7 linked regions of the Homo sapiens genome follow. The protein of the gene in region 4 purifies or fractionates together with the protein of the main gene of each other region. This does not show direct contact. Each region holds a gene or a part of one and is shown on either strand. Other genes may lie near its edges.

Evidence for each region.
Region 1: the proteins of LHX4 (region 4) and ABI2 purify together in Homo sapiens (affinity purification with mass spectrometry; 3 studies listed by BioGRID and IntAct, with this or other methods). This does not show direct contact.
Region 2: the proteins of LHX4 (region 4) and ABI1 purify together in Homo sapiens (affinity purification with mass spectrometry; 3 studies listed by BioGRID and IntAct, with this or other methods). This does not show direct contact.
Region 3: the proteins of LHX4 (region 4) and TSC22D4 purify together in Homo sapiens (affinity purification with mass spectrometry; 2 studies listed by BioGRID and IntAct, with this or other methods). This does not show direct contact.
Region 5: the proteins of LHX4 (region 4) and CYFIP2 purify together in Homo sapiens (affinity purification with mass spectrometry; 2 studies listed by BioGRID and IntAct, with this or other methods). This does not show direct contact.
Region 6: the proteins of LHX4 (region 4) and THAP12 purify together in Homo sapiens (affinity purification with mass spectrometry; 3 studies listed by BioGRID and IntAct, with this or other methods). This does not show direct contact.
Region 7: the proteins of LHX4 (region 4) and SMAD4 purify together in Homo sapiens (affinity purification with mass spectrometry; 3 studies listed by BioGRID and IntAct, with this or other methods). This does not show direct contact.

The regions. Positions count from the first base shown.
Region 1 is NC_000002.12:203,394,394-203,397,893, forward strand, and holds part of ABI2 (abl interactor 2), read left to right. Parts: intron 1-306; coding exon 307-453; intron 454-1,262; coding exon 1,263-1,387; intron 1,388-2,391; coding exon 2,392-2,574; intron 2,575-3,500. UniProt on the Homo sapiens protein: Regulator of actin cytoskeleton dynamics underlying cell motility and adhesion. Functions as a component of the WAVE complex, which activates actin nucleating machinery Arp2/3 to drive lamellipodia formation.
Region 2 is NC_000010.11:26,770,459-26,773,958, forward strand, and holds part of ABI1 (abl interactor 1), read right to left. Parts: intron 632-3,500; coding exon 617-631; intron 1-616. UniProt on the Homo sapiens protein: May act in negative regulation of cell growth and transformation by interacting with nonreceptor tyrosine kinases ABL1 and/or ABL2. May play a role in regulation of EGF-induced Erk pathway activation. Involved in cytoskeletal reorganization and EGFR signaling.
Region 3 is NC_000007.14:100,472,715-100,476,214, forward strand, and holds part of TSC22D4 (TSC22 domain family protein 4), read right to left. Parts: intron 1,727-3,500; coding exon 1,560-1,726; intron 1-1,559. Other genes in the region: TSC22D4-C7ORF61 (uncharacterized protein LOC122198330), read right to left, coding at 1,560-1,726.
Region 4 is NC_000001.11:180,236,764-180,240,263, reverse strand, and holds part of LHX4 (LIM/homeobox protein Lhx4), read right to left. Parts: intron 1-3,500. UniProt on the Homo sapiens protein: May play a critical role in the development of respiratory control mechanisms and in the normal growth and maturation of the lung. Binds preferentially to methylated DNA.
Region 5 is NC_000005.10:157,272,623-157,276,122, forward strand, and holds part of CYFIP2 (cytoplasmic FMR1-interacting protein 2), read left to right. Parts: intron 1-3,500. UniProt on the Homo sapiens protein: Involved in T-cell adhesion and p53/TP53-dependent induction of apoptosis. Does not bind RNA. As component of the WAVE1 complex, required for BDNF-NTRK2 endocytic trafficking and signaling from early endosomes.
Region 6 is NC_000011.10:76,364,133-76,367,632, reverse strand, and holds part of THAP12 (52 kDa repressor of the inhibitor of the protein kinase), read left to right. Parts: intron 1-1,660; coding exon 1,661-1,781; intron 1,782-3,200; exon of another isoform or gene 3,201-3,295; intron 3,296-3,500. UniProt on the Homo sapiens protein: Upstream regulator of interferon-induced serine/threonine protein kinase R (PKR). May block the PKR-inhibitory function of DNAJC3, resulting in restoration of kinase activity and suppression of cell growth.
Region 7 is NC_000018.10:51,064,713-51,068,212, forward strand, and holds part of SMAD4 (mothers against decapentaplegic homolog 4), read left to right. Parts: intron 1-710; coding exon 711-894; coding exon of another isoform or gene 895-901; exon of another isoform or gene 902-1,033; intron 1,034-2,306; coding exon 2,307-2,475; intron 2,476-3,500. UniProt on the Homo sapiens protein: In muscle physiology, plays a central role in the balance between atrophy and hypertrophy. When recruited by MSTN, promotes atrophy response via phosphorylated SMAD2/4.

The sequences.
Region 1 (3,500 bases), on a different chromosome or scaffold from region 4:
AGAAGAGGTAGGGTCTGGGAAACATTGGCTTAAATGGTAGAGAACCTTTGTGCTCTTTGAGAATAAATGAACAAAATTGCATTAGCACAGGGAAATGAGGTTGGAGACTGAAAAATAACAATATTCACCAAAACCCTAATGGTGGAGAAGTGATACATTAGTAAAGACTGAAATTGGTAGCTGGGTTATGTTAAAACACATTTCCTATCTCTGATTACAAATTGTATCTCAACTGCTGGCAACTCTTTGAATTTATTGTGCCGAAACTTGCTTAATCATACAATACATACGCTCTTCTTTTTGTAGGCGGCACTCCCCCTATCGCACACTGGAGCCAGTGCGTCCTCCAGTGGTACCAAATGATTACGTACCTAGCCCAACCCGTAATATGGCTCCCTCGCAGCAGAGCCCTGTGAGGACAGCTTCTGTGAATCAAAGAAATCGAACTTACAGGTATTTTCTCTACCTCAGTGCAAAATGTGATGGTCATAGTACCATAATCTGTTCAGATTACTTCAGGTAAATCTCTCATTTTCCAAGCACTAAGTTCTTTTCCTCACTCTATTCTCCCAAACCTCATCTGATTTCACCTCTCTCTCCTCATGTTCTGATTCAACTTTGAGCAGTCAGGAAGTTGATAAAGAACAGACATCTCAAAGTGCAGACTTCTCTCCAAGTTTTAAGAGTTCAGTTGATCTGGAAAAAAAATTATGGACCAAATGTGGGAAATGTCAGGTTGTTTTTTGGTGGAACTTTACAGATGAAAAACTATACATAATAAAACATTAATATGGGATAGTACATCAGAGTATGATTATTAATTAAAATTACTCAAATCTGTTTAGGAAAATGTTTTTGTTTTATTATAAAAGAAGTTTCTTCAGATAGGCATTAAACTGGAATATAAAAAGGCAATATTTATTGTTTTAATGTGTTAAACCTCAACATTTATCACTTGTATTTATGGATAATTTTTTCAAAATGTGGTCAAAACAAGCTTATTGAACTCAGTTTTCCCCTCAACTTTATTAATAAGTAAATATATATATATATATACACACACACACACACACACACACACACACACACACATTTTTTTTTAACCTGTCACTGACTTGGAGCTCAAGGAAATTTTATTTTGAAGTGGTACGCTTTTGAATTACCTTTATTGTAGCTACATTCATCTCAGAAAATGTCGGGAAGTGCTGATGATCTCTTACTGTTTATAAATACTCATGTTTTGGTGGCTCTTATTTCTTTAGCAGCAGTGGGAGTAGTGGAGGGAGCCACCCAAGTAGTCGGAGCAGCAGTCGAGAGAACAGTGGAAGTGGTAGTGTGGGGGTTCCTATTGCTGTTCCTACTCCATCTCCTCCCAGTGTCTTTCCAGGTAAAACATTCATGGTGCCTCGTCTTCACTTTTCCTTTCTGAATTTGATTCAATTTGTGATTTAATTATGGTGGGCTTTCTTCGTAATCAGGATTTTTTTTCTTTAGGAATCATAAATATTGGGAAGTCTATATATTTGTTATTTGTAAGCAAGTGATTTGTAAGTGTTTGCTCACTTTGCACTTCTCTTTATGCCTTTGGTGATGTGGCTCAGTTGCTGCTTTGAGGTTTCAGATCACACTTTGTTATGAGTACAAGTTTAATTCCAGCTAGTGTTATGACAGTGCAGTCTTTGGACACAGTGGGAACTCAGTGTGAGAACCATATTAGTAACAAAGGATTGGGCAGATATAAAAAGTAGTTTTGACAGTTAAATTTAGTGGCTGTATTGGAATTTAGTAGTCTCTGAAAATACTACCCTCTTTTCTCTGAAACAGAAAAATCTGCTTATTTGATTCGAGGAGATACACACTTAAAACTTAGTTTTGAAAACGTGACACAAAATACATTAATAGAATGTTACATACTTAATTTACTTATAGTAACAAGTAGATAATGCCTTTTAAAAATCATAAAGATTTGTGTTTTAAAAAAAATTTTTAATCTGATAATATGGAATATGTCTATTTTCTGATTTGTGTAATTCAAAATGGAAAACTGTTGTTTTTTAGTGTATTATGTTAGTTTTGTATACTATATACAGAATGTTATGCTAAAAATAACAATACGAAGGGAACACTTTTCTTCTGGAGTAGTGCTTTCAATTGAAAAGGAATGTTTGTTTTTAATGAATTGAAAAAATCTGCACATTACCCTGAGCATCTTGAATTATTTGCTGCTTATATAGTAATCCTTTAGCATAAGTTTTATTCTTTTTTTCAACTCTGTTCTTTTGGTTAGTGTTAAGCACTGAATATCTAACATTAAATACTCTAATACCTTTTCTAATCCTGCCTCATGTGATTGCCTCATTAATGCTGCCTCTTACTCCTCTTTCCCCTCAGCCCCTGCTGGCTCTGCTGGCACTCCTCCCCTTCCTGCTACTTCTGCATCTGCCCCTGCTCCTCTTGTTCCTGCTACTGTCCCTTCCTCCACTGCCCCAGACGCTGCTGCTGGGGGTGCCCAGACCCTTGCTGATGGCTTCACTTCTCCAACTCCCCCTGTTGTTTCTTCCACTCCCCCTACAGGTAAGTATTTGCTTATTCATTGGCAGGCAGATGCAGTCATCTGGCTATTCTCTTACTTGCACCTCTGATTTTTGTTTGTTTTTGGTTTTGTTGTACTTCGTATTAAAAAAAAATAAGAATAATGTACTAACCAGAAAGTATGTGACCAAAGATTAGCATTTCCTGAGAAAATTGAGGTAAAGTTTCTCATACATTTTTCCAATAGGGTAGCATAAATTTGTGTTTTTTTATTGCTTGAATTTCATTTATTAGAGATTTTTAAGTTTAATATGGAGCTACCTTCTATACAGTTTTTGGAAATTATCATTAGAAATATTTTCATTATAGGTTAAGTGATTAACAAAAGTCTATTACAATAATTCTAAGGTATATTTTATAGGAAATATTTGATACAACAAATGGAAAGCCTCTGTAAGTCTATTTTTAACAGAATCTGTTGCTTATTATAGCAGCATTGGAAACTCATAGACAATGGACTTTTAAAGAATTTCAGGTTTATTTAAGTTGGCTGGTGTTTTAAAATTGCAATCTAAAATCTGTTTTGATTGGGGAGGAGATAGACTCAATTGCTACGAAATATATTTGTAGAGTTAATGATGCTGGCTAGTAACAGGTTCTTGTCTGCTATAAAATGTATGTGTTTGGACATATATCACTGTATTAGTCTGTTCTCACATTGCTATAAATACCTGAGACTGGGTAATTTATGCAGAAAAGAGGTTTAATTGGCTAACGGTTCTTCAGGCTGTACAGGAAGCATGATAGTGGCATCTGCTTGGCTTCTGGGGAGGCCTCAGGAAACTTACACTCATGGCCTAAGGCAGAGGGGAAGCACACTGGTCACGTGGCCAGAGTAGGAGCAAGAGGACAAGGCGGGAGGTGCTACACACTTTTAAACAACCAGATCTCATTATTGCAAGAACAGC
Region 2 (3,500 bases), on a different chromosome or scaffold from region 4:
GTTTGAATAAAGACTTTGGTACTACAGTTTAAAAAGTCAAGGAACCACTTGCACTTGGTCTTCCTATTATTTTATGCCATTTATATCACATTGTAGCCAAATACAGGTGAGATGACTGGATTTAATATCTTATTTTATTGTTAAACATGTTCACTGAGATCAAACTTATCTGCATTCAAACACTGGGTTTCCTAAAATTTTTGAAATGTGTGCATGAACACAAACTATAGATCTTACTTGTCAATTTGCTCAAATACGCATCTGAAAAATCATCTTCATCCTAACAATTCAGTAACAAAGTCACATATGATGTCTGGGAAACCTCCTAATTGTAAGTCAATGAAAGCAAGGCAACTATCGAAAAATGAGCAAAGCAATAAATGTTAGCAAAATTAATGTTCCTATATAAACACAGATGTCAATATATCATTGATATATTAACACAGCCAAGCTAAATGTTGCTTATTTGAACTGAACTTGAGTATTAAATAATCTACATAAATCCTACAGGGAAAAGCAGACAGACATAAGAAGAGTTTTCAAATTTTAGTGGCTCTGCAGCCTCTATCAATACAGAGGAAATACTGTGGATCAAATGATAAGTAATGGCTCTTACCTTGGCTTTTAGCCACTTTACGTTGGCAAAAAAAGGGGGGGAAAAAGTAGACATTAATGCTAGGTAAGTTATATCCGATAGGACAGGTTTACATTTACAGTTACTCAATTCATGTTAATAAGCTTTTTTCCAGCCATGTTTCAACTACTTTGTAAAGAAAAAGAGATCCATACGTACTGGGGAAATACTCATGTGTTTCATGTATTTTTCAAAAGAATTATATTCATAAGGAAACCACCACTTAATTATTCCAATCTCATGCAGGCTCAATGATTTTTTAAGTCAGTATTTTGTCCTATGGAACTAATCCAACCGAGTAACAGATGATTTTAAAAATACGCTCATTTAAATACAAACACCATAACACATTAGATGTGAAGCTATTTTAACATATCGGTGCATGAGACCTAACACTTTACTGGATAATGAATGTCCAAGTATGAGTATTCATTACTTCAATGGTAGTATAGTTTAAAAAGTGATAAACTGCAAACATTAAAATTCAAAACCACAGATTGCTTCCAAAAATGAAAAAAGGACCTAGTATCTCGATGTTTAAAAACAAATTCATCATGCACAGTGATAACTTAGCCAGATTCTAACTAAGAAATAAACAAACAGGGTCTGGAAAACTCTCTCATTCCTAGCTTCTGAACCCCAATCCTGTGCAGGCCAACACTAATAGGAAGTTCTAAGTAGCTTTAGTTCTAAGTTTTCATCTGAGCCAGTTAAGTCAAAATTCAAAGTTGAAGAAAAGTTGTTTTGATCCTAAAGGCTACTTCTATTAAAGCTGACTAGCCTACACAACATGAAACAATGTGTAGTCCTAAAGCATCACTACTTGTACAATGCCACTAAAAAAAAATATCTTCAGGTTTTAGAGTCTAATTTTTTACAGATTTGGGGGCTTCAAGCTTTTTTTTTTTTTAAATAACATCTGACATTCTCAACAAGTAACTACCATTTTTCAGGTGGCCACAAGGCAGTATCAAAGGAAATCATCCAAAGGAGAGATTTGGTGTCTTTTGGATACATTCTCATTTATAGAAACTGTGCGAGAAATTTGGTACACTTCAATATTTGTTTAAAATGATACTGCTTACTTCTATCTGGAAACAACATCTGGTACCCTACCTAACCATGACATTTCACATCTAGAGAATAAATTTTGAGTATAACATTATTAGGATCCTTGAAGATAAAATACACTAATGTATACTTCAGTATCTGTATTATGATATATACTATACATGTATAGTATATACTTACATAGCAATGTATATCTTATAATGTATATACATAATACTAAATACTATCCTAAAATAACCAAGAAAATATTCTAAATATGTCCACATATCTTCCTTCATTTGTCATTTCAAGTGGATAAGAAACAAAAAAATTAGCATTCAAGTATAAGCTGGTCCCAAATGGAAAGAATAAAAGAAGAATTAGATTGGGAATGAAAATTCTACTTGAACTCTGTGCTACTATGCAATGGTATAAGCTTTAACCTCTTATGAAGTTCGGCCTCCTCTATTAAGTGTTATTAGACATGCAGATGTGTCAATGTTGGCAAGTGTTAGTAGGAAATAACCTCTACATCTTACACCTCAAAATACTAATATTTTTGTTAGAAATCTATAAAATTTTTTATTTAAATATCCCCAAAATATATCCAAAATGAAACTTTTTTATTTCCTTAAGATCTCATTTCAGGCTAGGCACGGTGGCTCACACCTGTAACTCCCAACACTTTGGGAGGCCAAGGCAGGTGGACTGCTTGAGCCCAAGAGTTTGAGACCAGCCTGGGCAACAAGGCGAAACCCCTTCTCTTGAAAAAAAAAAATAAAAAATTAGCCAGGCATAGTGGCGCACACCTGTAGTCCCAGCTACTTGGATGGCTGAGGAGGGAGGATCACTTGAGCCTAGAAAGTTGTGAGCTGTGATTGAGCTATTGCACTTCAGTGAGACCCTGTCTCTTTTTAAAAAAATCTCACTTTGTTTCCTTAACATTTACCTTTATGGATGAGTAATTTTACCATTTGCCTGGAATCTGTTTGAAATTCCCTTTGATTCCTCCCTATCTTCTAAGTACATCATAGTTTTGTATGTCATAGGCACTAAATGTCTAATGCTAATTCTTTTTTTTTTTTTGCTGGCTCTGTTGCCCAGGATGGAGTGCAGTGGCTCAATCTTGGCTCACTGCAACCTCTGCCTCCCGGGTTCAAGCGAGTCTCCTGCCTCAGCCTCCCAAGTAGCTGGGATTAAAACTGTGTGCCACCATGCTTGGCTAAATTTTGTATTTTTAGGAGACGGGGTTTCACCATGTTGGCCAGGCTGGTCTCGAACTCCTGGCCTCAAGTGATCCTCCCACCTGAGCCTACCAAAGTGCCAAGATTACAGGCATGAGCCACTGCACCCAGCCAAGGCCAATTCTTTCTTTGAAATGATTCTTAACTCACTCCTCTGCTTTATAAAATAAAAATTAAAAAAAAATCTTCCTATGTAAACATTATAAAGCTTTAGTTTCTACACTGTTTTAAAAAAATTAATCAGAAAGCCATTAGGCTGAGACCATTAGGCTGAGACGGCTCCAGCATTCTGGGTTCCTACTTAGGCAAACCAAAACACAATTAAAAGAAACTTAATCAGAAACCTCCAACTAACCTCTAACTAGGAACTTTACTAATCAGAAACCACAATTAACTTCTAACCAATCAAATATTTTGCTTGTCTTGCTTTCTTGAACTTCTACCTGCTTCATGTCTCCTGTGGTCTGAAGCTGCCCGATTCATGAATCACTGTAAACTAAAACTCCAAAAAAAGTAACACATCTAAGCTTATCTTTTAAGACCAATAATAAAATCTAACAACTCCTAGATCA
Region 3 (3,500 bases), on a different chromosome or scaffold from region 4:
GCCCCACCCAGCACTGGCACTCTTGCCCTCCGTCCCACCAGCTCCTGGCCACCTCCTTTGCCAGGTCCCTATCCTCCCTGAGGCCGCAGGACCCTATCAGTGGTGGGCTTGAGTCCCTGATCCCAGCGAGTGGCCCCTGATCTGGGGAGGACAGGAAGGAGCGACTCCCATCTGGAATTGGTCCCTCAGGCACCCACTCACCCACTCTCGAAGCCCCACCCCCAATTTCCTTCCAAGCAGGAAGTCCCTCCCCTTGAAAACCTCCCACGGGAAGTCCCACTTCTCCCTCCAAAAGAAAAGCGGTGACTCCCCAGCCCTTCTGCCCGGTTCCTATCAGTCCCCGGGGAGAAGCAGGCAGCCTGGCTATCTCTGACTCACGATTCTGGGCCTCCCTTTTCAGCTTGCTGGCTTTCTTAGGAATGGTGACACCTGGCCCTGAAAACCCACCCAACAGAGCACTGTCCCCTAAAGGGAGAACCCCAGAAAGTCGCTCTCTGCAGTGCTGCCCCTGCCCCTTTGCCGTTCCTAGCTCTGATTCTGTTCCTAGCTGGCCCATCTTAGGGACTTGCTTTCTCGGTTCTAGAAATCTTAGGATCCTAAAGTAGACCCTGTGGGCTATCAGGATGTCACGCTCCACAGGTGCTGTTAGGGAGTCCCAGTCCTTTGTTAGGAGAGAAAGAGGGAGATGGAACTGGGAGGAAACTGATTTCCATTCTTTTTCAGTTTTTTTTGTTGTTTTTTTTTTGAGGCGGAGTCTCGCTCTGTCACCCACGCTGGAGTGCAGTGGTGCGATCTCGGCTCACTGCACCCTCTGCCTCCTGGGTTCAAGTGATTCTCCTGCCTCAGCCTCCTGAGTAGCTGGGATTACAGGCACGTACCACCACGCCTGGCTAATTTTTGTATTTTTAGTACAGACAGGGTTTCACCGTGTTGGCAAGGCTGGCCTCGAACTCCTGACCTCAGGTGATCTGCCCGCTTCAGCCTCCTAAAGTGCTGGGATTACAGGCATGAGCCACCATGCCCAGCCTACTTCCTTTATGTATATATATATATATTTTTTTTTTCTTTCTTTCTTTTTCTTTTTAGAGATGAGGTCTCGCTACATTGCCAGGGCTTGGTCTTGAACTCCTGGCCTCAAGCAATTTTCCTGCCTGGGCCTCCCAAAGCACTATGAGTACAGGCGGGAGCCACTGTGCCCCGGCCTGATTTGCTATTCTGTCTAGAGCATGCATTTGCCAGTGGGTTCCTGGGTTGGCCAGATGATCTCTAAATCTGCAAGAGCTCTGGAATCTGACAACAATGACTCCCTTCAGACTCTAAAAAAGTCTGTGACCTGACAGTTCTGAGCCAGGGAGTCCCACCCAGCCCTCTCCACAGAGAGGGAGTGGGTCCGAAATCAACTGTGTGCAGTGGCTATGCCCAGGCCAGGTTTCTCTAAGAGGTCCTCTCCAAGTTCAACCTGGGGGAAGGATGCCTACCAGGCACTTTCTTACAGCTACCCCGGGTGCTGGGCGGGGAACCTGAACCCCACGCCCCACCACCCCACGAAGCCCACCTACCTATCATCGTCGCTGTCTAGGTGACCACTGATGGCCAACATGGAGTGGGCCAGGCTGAACTTCTGAGCTGCTACTGCTCCGAAGGGGTCTGGAGATTTGTGAACCAGGCTGGCATCGTGGGTGAAGTAGAGGGCTGGGGAGCTGGGGCGAGAGTCAAGTGGGGGCACCTGGAGGCGGAGAGGTAGGAACCATCACATGAAAAGAGAAAAGAAAGGAACCAGCTGCCTTAAAACTTGCCTATTAGCCTTCCTCCCTCTCCACCTCCCCACTCTCTTTCGAGGACCCAGGAGTCCTGTCCCCGCAGTCCTTCCCTCCTCCAGCTCTGGAGAAGGCATTAGGCAGGTACTAGAAGCAAGAAGTGGGTCAACCTAAGGAATGGGAGGAGTGGTGTATAGGACATTAGAGAGAGTCTCCCAAGTGGGAGGAGGGGGTGACTGACGGAGGAACCCAGAATAGACTCCAATGCCCCAGCTCCCACTGGGCCGGGACCCCTAATCAGAGGCTACGCAGCGTGTCTGCCTTCTTTTATGTTTTATTTTTATTTTTTTGAGACAGTCTCACTCTGTCACCCAGGCTGGAGTGAAGTGGCACAATCATGGCTCACTGCAGCCTTGAATTCCTGAGCTTAAGCGATCCTCCAGCCTCAGCCACCCGAGTAGCTGGGACTACAGGCATGCACCATCATAACTGGCTAATTTTTTATTTTTGGTTAACACAGGGTCTCAAGATGTTGTCCCGGCTGGTCTCAAACTCCTGGGCTCAAGTGATCCTCCTGCCTCAGCCTCCCAAAGTGCTGGAAGAATGAGCCACCACTCCCAGCCTGTGCCTTTACTGGAGTCTCGCTCTGTCGCCCATGCTGGAGTGCAGTGACGTGATCTTGGCTCACTGTAACCTATGCCTTCCAGGTTAAACTGATTCTCCTGCCTCAGCCTCCTGAGTAGCCGGGACTACCGGCACCTGCCATCACACCTGGCTAATTTTTTTATTTTTAGTAGAGACGACAGGGTTTCACCATGTTGGCCAGGCTGGTCTTGAACTCCTGACCTCAAGTGATCTGCCCGCCTCGGCCTCCCAAAATGCTGGGATTACAGGCGTGAACCACTGCACCCAGGCTGCCTTCTTAAAATGACTCCAATGTCACCTCTTAGAGAGGCATTTCCCCATCATTCACTGGTTTACTGAACTATTTCATTTTTTTATAGCACCTAACATTATCTGAAATTAAAGTATTTATTGTGTCTCTCCCCTGCTAGAAGGTCAGTTTGCTCAGTAGCTATTTGTAGAATGAATGGATCCTCAGAAACTGCTCCTCCATCCCCTCACCCACCCCCCACTCTCGCTTCCCCTCTCAAACTTCTCGGACTCAGGTGGAATTCTGCTCCTGCGCTCTGCCCTAGGGTTGGGGGGGGAGCTGGTTGTGGAGCTGGGGGGAGGCGGAGCCTGGGCGTGGACCTGCATAGCCCAACAGGCTCTGGGGGCAGCAGCAAAAAGGGCGGGGGCGACAGGAACATGACAAGACGCCTCTGTGAGGCCCCGGGAGGCCCCAGCTTCTCAGAAAAGCCAAGAACAGAGAGTCCAGGGTGGTTAAGGGACAGAGCAGAGGAAGGGGGCCCAGGTGGTGTCCCCTGGCCCTTCTCCACCACTCCCCTCTGTTAAGAGGGAGAAGAGGCATGAGGGGACGTGGAAGGGAGACAGACTTTTGGGCAAGGAAATAGCAAAACAGATGCGTGCAAACAGAAGACCGTCAGGAGGTGGGGGAAGGCTGGGGAGTAGGGGGCACTGAGAGAGAGAGGCAGGGTCTGTGGCCCCAAGAGAAGCTCAGGCCAGGCTTAAGGACAGAGAGCAGGGAAGCTGGAGGCCAAGGGGGTTTGCTTTGGAAGAGTCTGGGGACAGGACAGGAAGAGAAACAGCATCTTCTCCCCTGGGGTGGGTGCTGAATGC
Region 4 (3,500 bases):
CCAGAAGTTCGAGACCAGTCTGGGCAACATAGTGAGCCCCTACCTCTATTATAATAATTTTAAAAGGGAATAATGTTTATTTAACGATGCTCTGAGACCAGATTAATATTTTGTAAAGTTTGTACTTTGATGTGCCAGCTTGATGTGCCTCCTGTGAGGCTTTTGCTTTTTAACTCCCTTTGCTTTTTAACTGCCTTCTGGATGAAGTGTTCTTTTTGTTTCATGCTTTGACTTGACAGCCTAATGCTCAGGACAAGGTTTTTCTTGCTCCTTTCGAGAAAAGGAGCTGGGTCCATGGGAGCCACTTCCGGGTCTCCCTGTTTGCAGACCCCACAGTATTCCCCCTCAGGTGGCCATCCTCTTGGGACAGCCAGCAGTGCTCCCAGGGGCGGCTGTGTCTGTGAAATGGGAGCTGTGATCCCAGTCTCTGAGTGCCTTAAGACCACCAGCACTCCAAACTTGGTCAAGTACTTTCAAATTGGCAAGCTCATTCCCTCCTCCCAGACACCCTGTGAAGCGGACATTCATTGTCTACGTTTAAAAGGTTCTGAGAATAAGGGGCTTCCCTACGGGTACACAGTTTGAGGCCGAATTAGGACTAAACCTTCTTTTACTCTGGGTCTGATGGCTTCCACCTGTGCTCAATCAAAGCCACCTCCATCTGGGATTTTTGCCCAAAACCTTTTTGCTGGTGATTTCCCTCCAGAAGTAAGCAGTTTTTTGAGCTCTGTCTCAAATAACATTTGGCCAATATGTATTTCCAAAAACGTTTAATTTTATTTATTTGTTAAGTTTCTTTACTGACTACTAACTGAAAGGAGACGCCAAATGGGGCTTTAAGGAATCACATATGCAACTGAAATAGTATGCAAATGTTTTTCTTGAAATTTTCCATTCCTTTCCCACATGTAAGGAAGAGAAAACAACAAATTGCAGACATTGCTGTTCTGTTGCCTCAGGTTCCCTGAGTAAGAAAGAAGGAAGATGGTTTTCTAAAGGCAGGCTTGGGAAATACTGTCAGTGGGGGGCTCATTGATTTAGTCGGGGAATAACTAATTCTAAAATGCATCAACAAGGTGAAGCTACAGGATATACCAAGCTGTGGCACACCTGCCTAAACACATACCTGAGTTCTGAAATGTCCAGGTCAAAGATTTATAACGGAGGTATAGTTACATTAAAATTAAATTAACTAAGAGGTCTATTACTGGATAAATATTTCAAAAATAAAACTTTCCATTTCAAAGTAGCCACCATCACCGCTGATGATAAAATCCTGTTTTCTGGTCACAATTCCCCTTTTAAATCACCTGGTAATTGTGACCAAAGGAAGAAGGCCTGATTCATCCATGCAGTCCCCACGCAGGGAAAACCTGAGGCCCACGACTCAGTTTTCCATGACAAATCTGGTGTGTGCCGCCCCCCAACCCTGGCTCTTTGTCATTAAAGAACATTCATTTTTGTTGAACCGTTTATAGTTCTCGTTTTTATATTTTCACTTATTCTAAATCAGCGTATCTTGAAGAGACAATAACAGAATTTTCCAAAATGTTTTTATAAAATTCCTCTTAAGGGATTTTCACAACCTAGTAATAATCACATAACACAGCTAAAGCACAAAATTCCAACATTAATTCTTTAAAACATAAAGAGAAAAGGCACATTGAACATCAATGATGACAGCAGCATTAAAGAAAGAGAGCTGGGCCAGCCACAAAAATATTAGAAAAATTCTAATTTTAAAAATTAGCATCGCATTGAAGGTAAATCATATTCTCTATCATCATATGCACTGACATGTTTTAAAATGCATCAGTGTACTCACGTCTTTTTATCTAATTTCTAGTTTTTTCTAGTTTGTCTTGACAAATGACTAGCAACCAGAAAAAAAGTCAGAAAATCCTTCTTACATCAGAAATGATCACACCTGAAGCTGTCCTTTCCCTTCACTTGCTTTCCGGAATCCTTCCCACTTTTACTGTTTGCTTTATTTGGTGGCTTGGGGTGCCTTTGAAAATCTCCTTTGTTCTTTTTCGGCTTAGTCAAAAATAGAAACCTCTTCAATAAAAGAACAAATTCAAAAGTAAACTGGAGATAATTTCGATGTTATCATTTTAAGGCTGTAATTTGGATATTTTAACATAAGGAGTCGAGTAACAAATGAAATACACAATGTAAATATGTATTTGCAGGGATTATCTCCTAGGTGATATATTGTCACGTAATTAGTATTCTTCAGTAGGATATCATATATCTCAGTAATTGCAAATAAAACAGAAAATTACATTAAGCAAATCCATGTTTGTGTATGGAAATGTTGTAGACACGTCTATTTCCACTCCATTTTCACATTTAATCATTGCTAAATCTCTACAATGTATTTTTCTAATGTCTCACTCTGTAACAGTATTCCATATGTTTGGCAATCTTTCCCTCATAGCAAGAAACTTTCAATTAATTTGGCTGCAAGTTTTGTCTCTATTAAGCTATTCCCAGAACCAATCTCTTAACCCCCTAACATCATAATTAAAGCAAATTATACTTTAAAGACATGTGGGGGTGAGGTACTGCAGTTAAACATCTGTGGCTAGACCCAGACTGACAGAGGGAACAGGGTGGGGAGATCTGAGAAAAGAAATCCACCAAAATTACAGCAGGAGGTAGGACTCACCTCCCAAGACGACTTTCCAGTCAGCCGCTCATACAGTTAACCCCAAAGTCCATTTTCCAAGGGAGAATCCATTTCATTTTCACCAATTAAACCCAACCTGTCCACCTACCCCCAAAAGCAATGCCTCAAAATGGTTGACTTGTGCTCCATTTTGATCAGGGATCCTATAAAATTGAGGACTAAATAAGGTAAAACCTCACAGTGGCATCTAATTTTAGTTGATTTCTTCCTACCACAGACAATAAGAGCCCAGCTCCAGGGCGGCTTCTGTCCTATACCCAGCACCTGTGCTTCCCTCCCAGGGCGCCTAGAAAGAGAGATGGCTCCACCACGGTGCAGCCTGCTGGACACACGACCGCCCTCCTCCCCGCCCCCCCCGCCGAGTAAAACCCCTGTGTCGTGAATTCCTGCACTATCCCATGTTTCTCCCTGCAAAGATTTTGCAAAGGAAGGAAGGGATAGACAGAAGAAATTGGGGGAACAGGGGAAGGAGAAGGAGGGAGGAAGAAAGAGAAATTCAAGCCACCAGACCGCGATGGAATTTTACTAAAAGCAGTGGACCCTATTTGCCCACATCTCTGTTATGGGCATTGTTAACACTCATTCCAGGAAGGGAGAAAGGCAAAACATTGTTACAAAAGTAAAATCGCCTCAACGGCACCCCAGCCAGCCCTCTCCAAATTCAGCCGTCTATGCAGCCATGTATTTGGTGCTGCCACAGCAAACTGCTGCTTCAGTCTGTCTCCAACCGTGGGTTTCTCAAAGTGGGTAATATTACTCCTTTTGTCCTCTCTTCAGCTAAACTGGTTCCAAGTCCCTATGCGTCCCA
Region 5 (3,500 bases), on a different chromosome or scaffold from region 4:
TACTTCCTGCTGTGATGGATGGAGATTTCACTTTCTTACACCATCTCCCTCCCTCCCCTGCCCCCGTCTCTCAAGATAGGAAGAGCTCTATTTTAACCTAAATCAGGTTTAAAGTGTCTACATTATTAATATATATAAATGATGATCACAGACAGCCAAGTAAAGTCCTTTGATTATATTTCCTTTCTTAGAGGGCTTTTCATTTCGCTGCAGAATTTTTGTTGCAATACTTGTCTTTTTATTTATCTATTTATTTATTTTGAGATGGAGTTTCACTCTTGTTCCCCAAGCTGGAGTGCAGTGGCGTGATCTCAGCTCACTGCAACCTCTGCCTCCCAGGTTCAAGCGATTCTCCTGCCTCAGCCTCCCGAGTAGCTGGGATTACAGGCGTGTGCTATGACACCTGGGTAATTTTTTAATTTTAGTGGAAATGGGGTTTCACCATGTTGGTCAGGCTGGTCTTGAACTCCTGATCTCAGGTGATCCACCTGCCTCGGCCTCCCAAAGTGCTGGGATTACAGGCACGAGCCACTGTGCCTGGCCCTGTCCTTTTCTTTTAAAGCTCTGTGTCATATGAGTTATTCTATTGCAGTCCCTTGTCTTCTCAGGAAGTGCAGTGTTAACCCTAGCTCCACCCCTAACTAGCCCAGTGACCTTGCACAAGTCCCTTCTCTTTTCTGAGCCTTGGTTTCCTCATCAGTAGAAAGAGAGCTAGGCTCCCTTCTTGTTCTCATTCTAAACCTCAGAACCTATCACCCCACCCACCTCACAGGCAGTAATATTATTACTCCTCAGTTAATATTATCTGAGAAGTCTTTACTCCAGGGTGGGGCAGCCCCAGGACCTGACAGATGGCAGAGAAACCAAAACAGGCAGGGGCAGGGGGAGGGAACAAACAAGCTAGCTGGGCCTGCCCTGTATGGTCTAGTTCACCCCTGCAGTTTAGGGGGCTGCTCTGTGGGGTGGTATGGTTGTATCTATTACTCTTTTCCTCCCCTGCTATCCCCGTTGGTTTTTGCTCTCCACAGCCTCTGCTTGTAGGGGCATCATTTACAGTCCCCAAACTCCCCAAGCTCCTACTCTACCCCCAGCTCTCTTTGTACCCCTTCTGCTTATGTTACACTCAAAGTTTCCCAAAAAGTAGTTATAAAAATACTAACTTTTGGTAGCAGCTTTATTGAAATATAGTTTGCATACTGTACAATTCACTCATTTAAAAAATATAGTTCAGGGCAGGCATGGTGGCTCATGTCTGTAACCCCAGCACTTTGGGAGGTCAAGGTGGGTGGATCACCTGAGGTCAGGAGTTTGAGACCAGCCTGGCCAACATGGCAAAACCCTGTCTCTACTGAAAATACAAAAATTAGCCAGGCATGGTGGCAGGTGCCTGTAATTCCAGCTACTCGGGAGGCTGAGGCAGGAGAATCGTTTGAACCCGGCAGAGGTTGCAGTGAGTGAGATCATGCCATTGCACTCCAGCCTGGGGAACAAGAGTGAAACTCTGTGTAAAAAAAAAAAAAAAAAAAACCGTTCAGTGGTTTTTAATATATTCACAGAGTTGTACAACCCATAATCGTAGTCAGTTTTAGAGCATTTTAGCACCCCAAAAAGAAATCTCATGGCCTTTAGCACCACCACCTATTTCCCCCAACCCCACCCCTTGGCAACCATAGATTTGCCTATTCTGGGCATGTTTAATAAATGGAACAATACAATACGGGGTCTTTAATGATTCGCTTCTTTCACTTAGCATAATATTGTCAAAGTTTATTCATGTTGTATCAATATCAGTACTTAATTACTTTTTATGGCTGAAAAATACTCCATGTGGCTATACAATTTTTTATTTATCAGTTGATGCATATGTTAGTTCTGCTTTTTAGCTATTACAAATAATGGTGCCATGAACATCCATGTACAAGTTTTTGTGTGGACCTGTATTTTCATTTCTCTTGGGTGTATGCCTAGGAGTAGAATTGCTGGGTCAAATGGTAACTGTGTGTTTAAAAATTTGAGGAAATACCAATCGATTTTCCAAAGTTGCGGCACCATCTTACATTCCCATTAGCAACGGTATTCTCAGTTTCTCCACATCCTTGCCAACACTTGTTATTGTCTGTCCTTTTCATTATAGCCATCCTAGTGGGTGTGAAGTGGTATCGATTTGCATTTCCCTAATAACTAAGGTTATTAATCTTTCTGTGTGCTTATTGGCTATGTGTATATCTTTGGAGAAAAATCTGTTCCTTGCCTATTTTTAAAATCAGGTTCTCTTTATTAATGAGTTTTAAGAATTCATTTTTTAAATTTATTTTTATTTAAAAAAATTTTTTTGTAGAAACAGGGTATCACTCTGTTGCCCAGGCTGGTCTTGAACTCCTGGCTTAAGCGATTCTCCCATCAACCTCCCAAAGTACTAGGATTACAGGCATGAGCCACTGTGCCCAGCCAAGAATTATTTACATATTTTATATACTTAGCAAATACATGATTTGCAAATATTTTCTTCTATTCTGTGGACTTACTTTCTTGATGGCGTCCTTTGAAGCACAATTTTTTTTATTTTGATGTTTAGTTTATTTTTTATTTTGTTGCTTGTGTTTTTGTTGTTATTACATAATTCAAGGTCACAAAGATGTACTCTTATGAGTTTTATAGTTTTAGCTCTTACATAGATCTTTGATCCATTTTGAGTTAATTTATTATATATTACATTATTTATACCTCACACCATAAAACAAATTTTGCATGTGGGTATCCAGTTGTCCTAGAATCATTTGTTGAAAAGAATATTCTTTCTACATCTCTTGTCAATTGACCATAAATGTGAGGATTTATTTCTGGATTCTCAGTTCAATTCCATTAATTTAATCATTGTTCATTGTCTTCATGGTAACACCACACAATTTTGATTACTGTAGTTTTGAGTATGTTTTGAAATCAGGAAGTGTGAGTCTTCCATTTTTGTTCAGTTCCTCCCACCCCCAAGATTGTCTTGATTATCCTGAGTGAGTCCCTTGAATTTCCATATGAATTTTAGGATCAGCTTGTCAATTTCTGCAAAGAAACCAGATGAGATTTTCATAGAGATTATGTTGAATCTGTAGGTTAGTTTGGGCAGTATTGCCGTGTTAACAATATTAAGCCTTCCAACCTATGGACATGGGATATCTTTTTATTTATTTAGGTCTTTAATATTTTCAACAAGGTTTTATTGCTTTCAGAGTGTATGTTTTGTACTTATTTTGTTAAGTTTATTTCTAAGTATTGTATTATTTTTGATGCTACTATAAATAGAACTGTTTTCTCCATTTTATTTTCATATTGTGCATTGCTGGTATATAGAGATACTACTGATTTTTATATGCTGATATTGTATCCTACAAACTTGCTGAACTTGTTTATGACTTTCAATAGTTTTTAGTGGATTTTTCTTGGATTTTCTATAACAAGACTATGTTATCTGCAAATAGGAATAGTTTTACTTTTTCCTTTCTAAT
Region 6 (3,500 bases), on a different chromosome or scaffold from region 4:
TAGCCAACGTGCTGAAACCCCATCTGTACTATAAATACAAAACTTAGCTGAGTGTCGTGGTGCACGCCTATAATCTCAGCTCCTTGGGTGGCTGAGGCAGGAGAATTGCTTGAACCTGGGAGGCAGAGGTTGCAGTGAGCTGAGATCACACCACTGCACTCCACCCTGGGCTAAAGAGCAAGACACCATCTCAAAAAAATAATTTGTGATACTGTTTATCCACGGCAGAACTTTTATTCTTAGAAATTTGAGGAATGGGCCGGGCGCGGTGGCTCACGCCTGTAATCCCAGCACTTTGGGAGGCCGAGGCGGGCAGATCACCTGAGGTCGGGAGTTCGAGACCAGCCTGACCAACATGGAGAAACCCAGTCTCTACTAAAAATACAAAATTAGCCAGGCGTGGTAACGCATGCCTGTAATCCTAGCTACTTGGGAGGCTGAGACAGGAGAATCGCTTGAACCCGGGAAGCAGAGGTTGCAGTGAGCCAAGATCATGGCATTGCACTCCAACCTGGGCAACAAGAGCAAAACTCTGTCTCAAAAAAAAAAAAGAAAAGAAAAGAAATTTGAGGAAAGATCTAGTTGTGACTTTAGCAAGTTACTTAATATTTCTGTGCCTTCATCTGCACAAGGGGGATATTAATAGTACCCATCTTTGGAAAGGACTTAGAACGTGTCTGGCTCATAATAAGTGCTTATTATTAGCTTTTCTGAAAATATTTAAGCACCGAGAGGGCATGGACTTTGTCTTGTTCTCTGTCTTCAACACTTTTTGTGTACTAGATTGTGTAGTCACAGTCCCTGCATTCATGGAGCTTGCAATCTAGTCAGCACGTATTACTGTAGATAATAATTTGTGTTCATAGGAAGATAAACGAATACAGCCTTTATGCTTCCCTTAGAAACTAGTTATTTAAAGAACATCTAGTTGCTGATTTTTTTTTTTTTTTCCGAGACGGAGTCTGGCTCTGTCACCCAGGCTGGAGTGCAGTGGCGCAATCTCGGCTCACTGCAAGCTCCGCCTCCCGGGTTCACGCCATTCTCCTGCCTCAGCCTCCCGAGTAGCTGGGACTACAGGCGCTCGCCGCTTCGCCCAGCTAATTTTTTGTATTTTTAGTAGAGACGGGGTTTCACCGGGTTAGCCAGGATGGTCTCGATCTCCTGACCTCCTGATCTGCCTGCCTTGGCCTCCCAAAGTGCTGGGATTACAGGCGTGACAACACGCCCGGCCTAATTGCTGATTTTCTACAGTGACAGTGTTGTTTTGTATGCTTGTTGAAGTTGAAATCCTGAAGGGAATGTTAAGCTGTGAGCCTTGTGGCTGTGCATGCAGCTTTCTGCTTGTTCTGCTGATGGTTGAATCTTCTCTGATGTTTTGGGAGTTGGAAGATGCAGGTTTCAGTTCTAGTTCTGCTGATGATTTTGTACTTCCCTCCAAACAAGTTACTTCTTAACCTTGTCTGTAATTGAAATGTTGGTACTAAATGACTTCTAAGGTTTTTTCCAACTGTTATTTTGTTATTAATCAAATTCTCCAAATTATGTTCTCAGGGAGGGGAGCAGGAATCCGTTGTTATTAATGTATGTTTGCCTTAAAACTGAAGGCTGAAATTTAAATGCTGAGCTCATTTTCATAATTGTATTTTGGTTTTATTTATAGATGCCAGAAGTGGGTGGAGAACTGTAGGAGAGCAGACTTAGAAGATAAAACACCTGATCAGCTAAATAAACATTATCGATTATGTGCCAAACATTTTGAGACCTCTATGATCTGTAGAACTGTGAGTAATAGAAGAGCTTGGTGTCTCTCTGTTTGACTTGATTTCTCTCTCTCACTGTGTCTGGTTGGAAATGTAAGTATTTACCAATGTTGGAAGGTATTCCTATATCCTGCCACTTTAAGATGAAGACAGATTTGGAGCTGAAAAGTATCTGTTTTGTTCTTAAAATCCTGATTTTGCCGGGGGCCTATAATCCCAGCACTTTGGGAGGCCGAGGCAGGAAGACCACTTGAGCTCAGGAGTTTGAGACCAGCCTGGGCAACATGGCCAGATGCCGTCGCTACAGAAAATACCAAAAAAACTAGCGAGGTGTGGTGACGTATGCCTGTAGTCCCAGCTACTTGGGAAGCTGAGATGGGAGGATACTTGAGCCCATGACGTCGGGGCTGCAGAGAGTTGTGTTCATGCCACTACACTCCACTCTGGGCGACAGAGTGAGCGCTTGTCTGGAAAAAAAACTCAAAATGATTAAAACAAAACAAAACAAAACAAAACTCTTCGGTTCCTGGTGCCCCATTTCTACTCACCCAAGGTAACTACTTTTTTTTTTTTTTTTTTTAAAGACAGTCTTGCTCTGTCACCCAGGCTGGAGTGCAGTGGCGCTATCTTAGCTCACTGCAACTTCTGCCACCTCCCCCACCTCCTGGGCTCAAGCGATTCTCTCTCCTCAGCCTCCCAAGTAGCTGAGATTACAGGCATTGTGCCACCACGCCCAGCTAATTTTTGTACTTTTAGTAGAGGTGGGATTTCTCCATGTTGGCCAGGCTAGTCTCAATCTCCTGACCTCAAGTGACCCGCCCACCTCGGCCTCCCAAAGTGCTGGGATTACATGTATGAGCCTCCACACCCGGCTGAGGTAACCACTTTTAAATATTATTTAGTCTTCAGGAAAATTTTAGATGATTATAAAAGTATATGTTTATTTAAGGTAAAGTTGGTGTTTTTATTTGGAGCTCTTTAGAGCTTTTTTATGAGTAAAATTTTCATCTCGGAATGGAGCTCTTGTTTTCATGTTTTTGTATGTACTATTAGAACCAACTTTTAATTTTTATGTGGTAGATATAATGGTAAACAAATTATCCAGGTAATGTGGAAAAACATTTTCATCAATAATATGTAATTTCATATCAGGACCTACTGTTAACTGTGTGAGCTTGGCCAAGTCACTTCCCCTCTTTGGGCCCCAGTTCCTAATAAGGAGATTAGGCCAGGTAATTCCTGAGTTCTAAGATTTTTAACCCTCTGTGATTCTCTTGCTGTGATTTATAAAAGGCACAAATAAGGCAAATTTGATTGAAATGAAGCAGACTTGTTTCAGTGTAACTAATGTAACACCTCAGATATTGGGATAGACATAAACTTGATTCAAAGGTACACTATATGTTGTTATGCAGCAATTTATTTTGATATTTTTTTCAGATACATTTTGCAGAGGCATCAGAAAACTAAAGAATGATTGGGTTATTTTATTTCTCAAAATTAATTGAAGCAGATACTTGTGAAGTCATTGGGAGGTGAGCCAATTCCGGTTCAACAGTTTAATCACAAATATTTGAGGAATATTTTTGCCTTGATTTGTTAAAAGGGTAATAATGATCAACCAAAATAAAAGGTTTCATATGTTTAAAAGGCAAACTACTTTTATGTTCTTGACATGAAGTAAAAATATCCCAAATTATTTTAAATACATTTGCCATATGCATTTTTGCATTTTTATTT
Region 7 (3,500 bases), on a different chromosome or scaffold from region 4:
CTCCAAAGTTAAAATTGTGGTAGTTAACATGACCTGACTTCACTAAAAATACCTTTTGCTATGGCATAGGTGGGACAAATGACCTTCTACCCAAGAGACAGTTGAGAATCTGTGTGTACAACAACTGTGTGATTAGAGTATAATTAACCTTAACTCAGGGATGGGATAGCTGACTTGCTTATGCACTTTCTCTCAATTAGGGAATCTATAAAAATATGTCATGAGTCGATGTTATTCAAGGACAGTTCCCTGGAATACATCTTAGGGTCAGTGTGTTTTTAAAAAATAAAAGTTGAGACTACATAGAGAATATGTGTAGTCAAATGAAATACCATGGTAAAATAATTTATTTTAGATTCTGATTATTTCTGTTCTTTAAATTCTCAGTTGACCTGGTCCTTTGAGGTAAGAACCAAATTCCAGATTTTAAAAAATGACTTTTAGAACTTGAGGATAAGTGGTAATTGGAAATTAAAAAAAAAAATTAGTGTTTTAAGAACAGTGCTAAGTACTGAGCTAGAAAATAGAAGACATGGAAATTCCTACCTTTTAATGCATTATGTTATTTTAATCCAGTTGTTTTGGGTGCATTACATTTCCATCTCCCCTCCCTTTACCCTTTCTTTTAGGAAAAACTGTGTTGTGGAGTGCAAGTGAAAGCCTTATATCTTTCTCATGGGAGGATGTTCTTTCCCATTTATTTCCTATAGCTCCTGAGTATTGGTGTTCCATTGCTTACTTTGAAATGGATGTTCAGGTAGGAGAGACATTTAAGGTTCCTTCAAGCTGCCCTATTGTTACTGTTGATGGATACGTGGACCCTTCTGGAGGAGATCGCTTTTGTTTGGGTCAACTCTCCAATGTCCACAGGACAGAAGCCATTGAGAGAGCAAGGTATTGATTGTATAGTCAGATAGTTACTTTAAAAAATTGAGCATAGTACATTGTCTTTTATTCAAGGTTATGTTTTCCCATGTACATTATATGTGTTCTTAAATATAAATAAAGGAATAAAGGTCATGTTGAAAACTCAGAATTTGTAAGCACTCCATCTTAATTGTCGGTGTTTTTGTTGTTTAACATATAATGATAAAAGATAGCCTTTTTTATGTTAGTAGGTTTCTATGTTTCGAATAGTAAGTATACCTTTTGAAATTCAGTTTGAAAATTTTATTTTCTGTGATCATACATTTCTACAAATTACTGAAAGGAAGTAATATTAAATGAGAACATGTTTCTGAAAGTTTTACTTATAATGTTAAAAAAATTGGTAATAAAAGGGAAATGGTTAAGTAAATTATGATAAATTTTTCCTTTTTTATACAGTCATTAAAATGTTTAAAAGTTTATATAATGAGGCTGGGTGCGGTGGCTCACACCTATAATCCCAGCACTTTGGGAGGCGGAGTCAGGCAGATCACTTGAGGTCAGGAGTTCGAGACCAGCCTGGCCAACATGGTGAAACCCTGTCTCTACCAAAAATTAGCCATATGTGGTGGTGTCCACCTGTAATCCCAGCTACTCAGGAGGCTGAGACAGGAGAATTGCTTGAACCCAGGAGGTGGAGGTTGCAGTGAGCTGAGATCGTGCCACTGCACCCCAGCCTGGGTGACAGAGTGAGACTCCATTTCAAAAAAAAAAAAAAAAAAAGTTTATATAATGAAATGGAAATGCTTACAGTGAAATATTACAGGAACATTCCATTTTAGCTACTGTATGATCTCGGCTTTTAAGGATGTGTGTGCTAAAGAACATAATCTTGGCTCTATCACTTGCTGTCATGTGACTTTGGCAAATTACCTAACCTCTAAGCCATTCTGCCTAATAGAATTTTCTGTGATGAAGAAAATGATTTATATTTGCACTGTCCAGTTCGGTAGCCACTAGCCACATGTAACTATTGAGCACTTAAATTATAGCTCACTTGATTGACTAATCGGATTTCTAATTAGTTTTAATTTAATTTAAATAGTCACATGTGGCTAGTGGCTATCAATTTGGACAGTATGCCTTAGTTTCTTTATCTAAAAAAATTAGAATAATAGTACTTGTTGAGTTGTAAGGGTTTAATGAGAATTCATACTACATGCTCCTGACACATAGTAAGTGTTGTAAATATGTGCATCATTATTAGATATGAACAGGAAAAGAAAAAAGGAAATATACAAAAATGTTAATAGCTATCTTTTGGTTTTATGTGATCTTTATTTTTAATTTTTCAATATTAAGCATGCTATACAATCTGAACTAAAATTTAATTTAAAATACTTATCAAGATAAAATGTAATTTCTTTTTTCTTCCTAAGGTTGCACATAGGCAAAGGTGTGCAGTTGGAATGTAAAGGTGAAGGTGATGTTTGGGTCAGGTGCCTTAGTGACCACGCGGTCTTTGTACAGAGTTACTACTTAGACAGAGAAGCTGGGCGTGCACCTGGAGATGCTGTTCATAAGATCTACCCAAGTGCATATATAAAGGTTAGTTACAATTTTATTTGAATATTTTAGACTTAAAGCTCTATTTGTTGTCAAAAGAATTGAAATCTGGGTGGAAGGAATGGAAAAATGTTTTATATATTAAATAATAAGAAATTGTGTTTAAGTATAAAAAACACATTTTCTGAGGGCATTTATTGACATTATCAGTAATCTAGTTTTATCGTTGCCAATTTGTTACATTTTGTTTTTTATTTTATTTATTTATTTATTTATTTATTTTTGAGACAGAGTCTTGCTCTCGTCGCCCAGGCTGGAATGCAGTGGCGTGATCTCGGCTCACTGCAACCTGCGCCTCCTGGGTTCAAGCAATTCTCGTGCCTCAGCATCCCAAGTAGCTGGGATTACAGGCACATGTTACTGTGCCTGGCAATTTTTTGTATTTTTAGTAGAGACGGGGTTTCACCATGTTGGCCAGGCTGGTCTCGAACTCCTGACCTAAAGTGATCCGCCCAACTTGGCCTCCCAAAGTGCTGGGATTACAGGTGTGAACCACTGTGCCAGGCCTGTTACATGTTTTAGAGTAATACAAAGGCTCTTGAAAATACTGAGTGAAGCCTCCAAAGTTGTATTCCTGTAACTTGAAATTTGTAAGAATCAGACTCTGGACTTTCATCTTAGCCAATCTTCAGGATTTTATGGAAGAGAATTCTAAAATTAATAGCTTTTCAAATTAAGAACCTGATAAGCCTGAAATATTTTTCACTAGTTATATATTCAACCTGTTTGAATTTTACTTTATAATATAACCTGTTTTTGAAAGAGAAAGGCAGTTGTAATTAGATAGCCTAAATATATTTTTAATTGTGTGTCATCCTCAACATTTTCATTGTCAGTGATTGTAAATTGGTAGAATTAACTGTGTCTCATAACTTATTACCAGGAAGTTGCTTAGGATAAAAATAATGTAGCCCCATAGCATCCATAAAAATGGAATTGCCTGATTACCTCACAACAGCAAACCCAGTTTCTCATTTCCAGTTATAGTTCAGTTAAAGAATGTTGGA